Regions from separate parts of the Homo sapiens genome. Here all the other regions are linked to region 3. Evidence: fine-mapped expression QTL. A gene starts in region 3. Each other region holds a variant in brackets. All regions are shown on one strand. Distances are from middle to middle. Region 1 has its middle 60 kb from the start of CDYL-AS1. Region 2 has its middle 27 kb from the start of FAM50B. Region 3 holds the start of FAM50B (family with sequence similarity 50 member B).

Region 1 (2,761 bases), 870 kb before region 3:
CTCATGCTTCCCTTGAATGCCCCAATGACTTCAGACTCATCATTCCCAGAACTGACCTGAACCTCCACCAAGTCTTTCCCAATGAGATGTAATCTTTCCCTCATTTGATTTTTCCATAGCTGTGTCCCTCTCTGGGGTGCCTATTTCATGCTACTTGTATGGTATCAATTTGAGCTCCTGTCTTTTTCGGCTTGCAGAATGAAAGCTCCTTGTCAGTGTCTTTGTCTTGCTCATTGCTAAACACCCTGAAGCACCTTGCTCCATGCTTTTTGTGCACCCAACACCGTATACGGTAAATAAATGAAAGAATGAACAGATGACTTCTTCAGGTTGCTAGCTCTCGTGGTATCTAGACTTGCCTGTTATTTCTTAGCAATGTAGAAAACCACTTTTGCATTCTATCTGGCCCTGTCAAGAATTCAGGCATCCCTTAGTGAAGATGAGGCAAAAAAAAAAAAAAAAAAAATTATTGCTGCCTTCTCTGACGCTTGTAAACACAGAGTGTAGGGTGTGCTATCAATTGACTTGGAGGAAGTGGAAAAGGAAAGGAAGCCAACGATGTCTCAGGTCATTAAAAGTTACTAAAGAGCAATGGGAGACACAAAACTAACCACTGCAATGAAATGGAAGTTCTGGCTACAAAAAATTTATTTAGGGAAGCCAGATAGGAGATTTAAAGAGAATGAAAAAAGAGGAGAGCTTGCGAGAGAGAAGGCGTTGTCCGAACAGCTAGAGTATTATGACTGGAATACCAGAAAGCTTATGTTGAACAATTTCTGACTACATATTGGTAAAGTCTTTTTTTTTTTTTTTGAGATGGAGTCTTGCTGTCACCCAGGCTGGAGTACAGTGGCGCGATCTCGGGCTCACTGCAAGCTCCGCCTCCCGGGTTCACGCCATTCTCCTGCCTCAGCCTCCCGAGTAGCTGGGACTACAGGCACCCACACCACGCCAGGCTAATTTTTTTGTATTTTTAGTAGAGACG[G/A]GGTTTCACCGTGTTAACCAGGATGGTCTCGATCTCCTGACCTCATGATCCGCCCGCCTCGGCCTCCCAAAGTGCTGGGATTATAGGCGTGAGCCACCGTGCCCGGCCAGTAAAATCATTTTTAAATAAAAGGGGCCTCTCTAAGAATTCTGCCTACTGCATCAGAACTAATTTGATTCCTGCAAGTTCTTACCGTTGTTTCTCTTCAGGAATAACTTTTGGGTTGGGCCCTCGTATTGCCAGTTTTTCTTCCTGCTTTTTCCCCAGGCTGACCTGTGGCTTGCCTGAAATGTCATAAAATTCTTCCGGGGGCTCTGTGTTCTCTGATGACCACCTGCAATTACAATCCCAACAAGAGGAATTTACTACAGTACATGGGAAAAAACCCAAGGCTCATGGCATTTAATGACTTTCACCAGTTCTACATTGAATCTGAGAGTGAGCCAGCATTTTGTGCTTGTGCAGAGGAAGCAATAAATGTCAGTAAGCAGTGCATCAAAAGTAGCAACACATTTAAAATGATAAGGAATAAAAAGCAATGTTTAAAGTAGTCAAACTTGCTCTTCTTCACCACAATATATGTCAATATGTTGGTTACCTGCAATTTATAATGACGTATTACAATACATGGAAGAGTAAGTAAGCCAAGTGGCCTGATACTTATCATGAGGTTGGAAGGCTATCATTTGCAGTCATGAAAATGTGTCTGCATTACAGCTTAAGGACCATCCCCTTTCCTTTTTTCAGCTTTTCTAGTAGACTGGTGGACACAGATGACAAGGAGGCGCGTCTTGTCCTCATGTGGTCTACAGTCTGGTAGGAAGACATAACTGACGTCTTATACAAAAGGTCTGAAAGCAGGAAGAAGTAACCAAATGCTTTAATGGAGACAAGGAAGTGAGTCATTCTCAGGTAGGGAGGGTGAGAGCCCAAGGCACAGAGGCACGAGAAAGCACGATGCATTTTCAGAGTGGCGAGTGGTTGGGCGTGCCTATGCAGAGGGTTTATGGAAACATGCCATTGGAGATGGTGCTGGAAAGTCTATACCTTTTGGACTTTGTTTTGGAAAAATAAAAAACAACTGAGGTCATTTCCTTTGGCTTTTAAGACACAAAAGTGAAAAAGTCACATATAAATTTAAAACTATTATAACATGTCATTTACAGCTGAGTGGAACCCTCACTCAGGTGGCGCATCAAGATTGCTGCTTGTCAATACAGACAACTGGGATAACCGAGGCCTCTAAACCAGCCAGAACACTCACGGATTCTGTAGTAGTCAGTCCTCAAGTTTGTTGGTGTGACCCTGAAGGCAGCGCTTCATCCTCTAACTTACCTACGCATCCACACTGGGCTCCATATGAATGGCAGCTGGTCGTCTACTTCACAATTTAACTTGGGATCAAATGTGCTCTTCTGGAAGCTGACTTTAAGGCAGGGAATGTTCAGGGTAGCTGAAATCTGCAGAAGCTGGCAGCCTGGGAGCATGGTGCTTCAATCCAGGGCTGGCCAGCAGCAGTGCTGTGATGGGGGCCCAGGTGCTCTTTGGTGTCCTGAACCATGATTATGTGTTTCTGTTGAGAGCTTATTATATACCAGGCATTGCACTGAGCATTGTTCATGGGTTCTCAGACTTAGTCTTCACAACAGTTCTGTGAGCAATCATCTAGAATCATTCTTGTTTGGATGAGACACTGCAGTTCATAAAGGTTAACTTCTCCTAAGTAATAAGTGGTGGAGCTGGGCCTTGAGCCCAGGTGCTCTGATGTTGTCTCTT
Region 2 (2,761 bases), 27 kb before region 3:
CAACCTATTGCTTGAGATAGGTGACATATCCTGACTATACACACACACACACACACACACATATATACATACACTGACACACATATATTTGATATATATGTATATGTAGAGAGAGGGTGATGAAGCAATGTAGTGTTATTAACAATTATGAACAACTAACTACACAGTTGAAAACAATATTAACAATTGGGAAGTCTAGGTGAAGGGGAAAGAGAGCTTTTTGTACTGTTCTTACAACTTTTCTATACATTGGTAACCTCTTCTTAATCTACCTTCCAGGGTTTTTGAGACGACCAGATGAAATAATGTTAAATCTCTATTAAAAGATGTTTTAATGCAAACATATATAATTACCTTGATCATGTCTCATTTACTTATTAGCCATCTTCCTGCACGAGACCGTGAGCTCCATGAGAGCAGGGCCCCGCCCTTTACATCCTGCTAGATCTCCCTGCCTGGAACAGTGCCTGGCATAACAAATACCAAAATATATTTCAGTAAAAATACCCAAATATCTGTTGAGTAATAAATGAATCACAGAAATTAGGTCAATTTTACACTTACCACTATTATAATATCATGATGTATATATATGTTAGTAAAGAGAACTTAATCACCTTCAGTCTGCCCCTTAGAAATCTTAAAACCTATTTGGAAATCTACTAGCTTATTGATTTGTTATTAGAGTAATTACTGATATGTAACTAAAATATACTTCCACATAATTAAGTATATTCATTTGCATGATAGAATTTGATCACTTTCTTAATGTAGTGGTTGAAGAGAACTGTCATTTAAACAGTGCAGATAAAGCCCTGAGAAATAAGTATGCATTTCCTATTAGAGAAATGTTCTCCAAGAGACATTTAAAAGGACCTAGGATGAGGACCCAGCATGGCCCTGCGTGGAGCCGGGACTTGGGTTTTGTATGGTTGCATGAACTGCCACTGGCTGTTTCAGAATAAAGTGCTCTACAAAACATGTTTTCTAGCAGATAGTACCTTCTCGTCGTATAAAAGCTTGGGCAAATTTTCAGAGTGGACGCAAAGTCAAGCAGGATCATCAGCAAAGAGAGGGACCATAAACCAAGAAACATTTGTTCTTATCAGAGCCAACTCCGTGTGAATGATATTCCGCAGTTCGTCACTCCAGCTGCTGGAACAGAAC[G/A]TTCCAGGGAGATGGGATTTGCCCCATTGCTTTACTGGAAACAGTGGGCGGGGGTGCAGATCTGGTTCTTAGGAAAAGAAGACTTTAGCCCTGAAGAGCCAAGATGTAGTCCCAACGCCTCAGAGAATGTGTCTGGCATGAAGTGTAAGTAGCAGATGTAGCTCTTTTATTCCTTTCTAATAACACAGCCTACAGAAATCGTTCTTTCCTTTTTCCTATTCCTTTTCAAGCTGCTTCATGTACCTTCACCATCCCATAAGTCAAAATCTGCTCCTGCGATTCCCTATTTCTTTTTTTCTGTAACTAACTGGGGAAAATCCCTTATCACACTACTTTCCCTTCCTGCCTTTCATCCCTATAATTTCAGAATATGAACTTAAAATAATCTTAGGGAGAAACTGAGAAAGACTAGCAGTATAAAGGATATAAAATGTGGACAGCACATTCAAACACCAAGATTTCAAAGCTAAATAGAACGATGGATCCAGCAGTCTTAAATTCCTGAAGCACGGCATTTCTAACACGATACTGAGTAAAATATCTTTATCTGCGTATCTGGCTCTATTCGGCCTTTTTTCTCTCACTTACATTTTGAATTTCATCCTGTTGAATTTCATATCTCACCCTAGGTGCCTTAAATTCTGTGTGTATGTGCACCACCCACATCACTGCCCAATTTGGGAGCAGTCCTAGTTAACATTTTATTTACTACAGAATCATAAATAGATGTACTATAATATCAAAGGCACTTTCATAAGCCATCTGTTGACAATATTCTAGATCTTCTCTCAAGTCATATCTTATTAAAAGCCTGATTCATACAGAACAGATGTCCAACAGTAAGGAAATGGTTTAGTAAATGATGGTACATCAAGATCATGGAATATTATGCCATCATTAAAGTTATAATTATGAAATCTATTTTGGAACACAAGACTTTATACACTTTTATGAAAAAATACATAAGAAGTAGGTATTCTCTGCTTATAACTATGCTAAATATTGAAGTACTGGAAAAAGTTGAAGGTAATATGAAAAATGGTGAGGAATGTATTGTTTTAAAAATTATTTAATCTTGGCCAGACACAATGGCTCACACCTGTAATCCCAGCACATTGGGAGGCCGAGGCAGGCGAATCACAAGGTCAGGAGATTGAGACCCTCCTGGCTAACATGGTGAAACCTTGTCTCTACTACAAATACAAAAAATTAGCTGGGCGTGGTGGCACACGCCTGTAGTCCCAGCTACTCGGGAGGCTGGGGCAGGAGAATCGCTTGAACCCGGGAGGCAGAGGTTGCAGTGAGCCAAGATCACACCACTGCACTCCAGCCTGGGCAACAGAGTGAGACTTCATCTCAAAAAAAAAAATTATTTAATCTTGATGATACATTATCCTTAAGCAAACAAACAAACAAACAGAAACATAATTTGCAAAATTTCTGAAGGAAAGTGTGACCCATAGGGTGATCTGGAGCTTTCTTGCTTATGCACTAAATGCATTTGGTCATAACCCTGCCTGAGAACACTAGGGAGTTTTCTTCCTCCCTGTTTATATTATTTTAACTCTGTAAAGAGAGCTAAGTATGTCTGATT
Region 3 (2,761 bases):
GGATGGTGTACTTGTCCCACTTCTTCTCGGGGTCATAGGCCTCCCAGCGGCTGGCGGGGAAGATGTGCTTGTTCTTCTCGTACCAGCTGCGCAGCACCACCTTGCCCGCGTGCGACTCGTCCTTCTCCATGGTGGCGTCGCTGAGCAGGCGCACGTCATCGTGCACATCGAAGCTGAAGAGCGGCCCGCTCTTGCCCCTCGCCCTGGCGATGATGAAGTCGTAGAAGGTGTGGTAGTGCGGCAGGATGAGGTCCTCCTTGATGAACATGAGCTGCTCCACGCCGGCGGAGCGCAGCTCCAGGAAGTCCTTGCGCAGCCCCTGCAGCGCCTTCTTCAGGAACTGCTGCACCGTGTTGCCCTTGCGCACCCGCACCGTGCGCCGGTGGCCCGAGCCGTCCCAGTAGCTGAAGGTGACCTCCATCTCCTCGTCCTTCACTTTCTCGCGCTGCGCCTCCCACTCTTGGCGCAGCTCCTCTCGGAGCCGGTTCTCCTCCTCCTCGCGGTCGCGGTCTGGCAGGAAGCTGGTGTCCACGTCGGGGTTCTTGCCCAGGTTTCCGGCGCGCCTGGCCTCGGCCGCGTCGGCCTGGTCATCGAGGTCGTCTAGTGCAAAGGACAGGCAGGAGATCTTACGCTTGCGCTCGCGCCGCTGCTCCTGCTCCCGCTGCCGCTCCTGCTGCAGCCGCTGCTCCTCCAGGTGCTGGCGCTTGGCCAGCTGCCGCTCGCGCTCCCTGACCAGGGCCTCCTGCCGGGCCTTCATGTCGTTCAGGGTCACCAGGCCCACCGTGCTGGACTTCAGCTCGGCCTCCACGGCGTCGTAATGCGCCGAGAACCTCTTGTCCACCTGCGACTTGAGGATGGTCTCCTCGGCGATGCGCTGCTTCAGCACCTCCATCTGCTCCCGCTGCCTTTCGCGCTTCTTGAGGAGGTGCATGGCACGGCCTGCCTCGCGCATGGTGCCCTTGTACTGCGCCATGGCCCGCGCCTACCCGATGGGCTCTGCAGCAAAGAGGAAAAACGCGGCAGGTAGAGGGGGGCCCACGCAACGGCGGGGAATGCTCAGCTCTGCGCCTCCTCACAGGGCTTTCGGCAGTGATGGAAGCGTTCAGGGGCTGGGCCGACCTGCTAGGGTAACCACCAACCTGACAGTGTCACCAGGCACCAATTTCCAGCATTTTATTTGACCTCAATAAATGCAAATGCGAACGGCCCCACGTAACGGGTGGCTGCCATGCCTGAGCGCAGCGCTGAATTTGGGGAGCTGCATACAGAGAGGGTTGGGCTACTGAGCGGACCCTTACCTGCCCAAGCACCCTGTCGAGCGGAGACACGCGGGAGCTGACCTCCACGAGAACCACCCACGAGCAGAGGCCCACTCGCCCCGGGCTCTCGCGACAGCCGTGGACACAGGAAGTGGAGGCGGTGCGCCCCCTGGCGGGGAGGCGGGCCCTGAGGAGAGTGCCAGGCTCCTGGTAGGGCGGCTGCGGAAACAGGAAGTGGAGGTGGATCGCCCCCTGGCGGGGAGGCGGGCCCTGGGAAGAGCTCCGGGCTCCTGGTAGGGGCGGTGCTCCTGTGGGGCGGGCCAGCGCGGGGAGGATCCTGGAGGAGGCGCTTCTGGCCCTGCCCAGCCGTGGCTGGCCGGGGCTCCTGTTTTCACGCTGTGGGCAGGGCGGGCCCCCACCTGCTGTGCGTGCGTGCTGAGCCTTCTCGTGCCCAACTGTAAACACGCAGAAGCAATGTGGGCGCAGCGCAAGCTGCTGTGGCCACCCAGAGAGCCTTGCAACACGGCCCTGCTCTCCAACCCTCCTCCTCCCGCCTCTGATGCTACCCCGCTGTGGCGTCTCGTGAACATTACCTGCGCACCACTGCCTGTAATTCTTTCTTATGGCCCCAACACAACCATTCTTTGATAATAGAACCCTACTCGCCCCCCAGTTTCGTGACAAAACCTGCACTCAGCTTGTTTGACCTCTTCTATACAGCAGTTTCCCCCGGGTTCTAAGCTCTAATAACCATGGGACACTGAGTTAAAGTGTAGCAGTGTCTTTACTGTGAGCCTCTAACATGCCAGTTTCCACTGTAACTCTCCAAGAGCAGGGCAGACCAGTTCATGTTTCGTGACCGTTTCTCCCCTGCAGGAGATCTGGTAACACTCGCCGAAACCAGTGCTTCCTGGGACCTAGTTTGGAAAAGCTGGTTGTGAAATACATACTGCGGTTCAGCCTCCTCCCGCCTAAGAGCAACAATGCCTGTGAGCATAACCTTACCAAGAAGCGTGAATCATATGATAATTACATATGGCACCCACATATCCAGAGGAGAACAGCACGGTGTGAGCCCTCATCAAATTGTCCAAGCCAGAAACCTAGGCCTTTTCCTGGAATGACGTTCCTCCACAGGTAATCAATTACAGAAGAGCCTTTCACACTTTCCTTTTTCTCCCATTCCCCACCACTTGCCTTAATCTAGGAAATTAGCATTTTTTTTAATCTAAAGCCTTCTCATTGTTGCCCCATCACCAGAATACAAGAATATCTTATTTTATTGAGCTCTGGGATACTGTGTGTTTTGTTTTTGTTTTTACAAATTGAAGATTTGTGGCAACACAGCGTCAAGCGCCTACTGGCTCCATTTTTCCAGCAGCATGTGCTCACTTCGTGTTCCTGTGTCACATTTTGGTAATTCTTGCAATATTTCAGACTTTTTCATTGTGATATCTGCTATGGTGATCTGTGATCATCGTTCTGTGAGGTTATTGTAATTG

What was found.
Region 1: its variant is fine-mapped to the expression of FAM50B in blood mononuclear cells (TOPMed, PIP 0.91).
Region 2: its variant is fine-mapped to the expression of FAM50B in fibroblasts (GTEx, PIP 0.99).

The regions. Positions count from the first base shown.
Region 1 is chr6:4,714,299-4,717,059 of GRCh38, reverse strand. It overlaps a transcript of CDYL not described here. Among named protein-coding and RNA genes, the nearest start is that of CDYL-AS1, 60 kb to the left of the region's middle. The variant G/A (reference allele first, on the strand shown) is at 986.
Region 2 is chr6:3,874,745-3,877,505 of GRCh38, reverse strand. No RefSeq gene overlaps it. Among named protein-coding and RNA genes, the nearest start is that of FAM50B, 27 kb to the right of the region's middle. The variant G/A (reference allele first, on the strand shown) is at 1,168.
Region 3 is chr6:3,848,024-3,850,784 of GRCh38, reverse strand. It overlaps FAM50B (family with sequence similarity 50 member B), which reads right to left and starts at 1,412. Exons shown (of 2, transcript NM_012135.3): 1 at 1,299-1,412; 2 at 1-996. The coding sequence starts at 973. It overlaps LOC107986557 (a long non-coding RNA gene), which reads left to right and starts at 1,419. Exons shown (of 3, transcript XR_001743931.2): 1 at 1,419-1,469; 2 at 2,136-2,396. RefSeq lists an enhancer at 1,229-1,348 and a silencer at 1,619-1,738.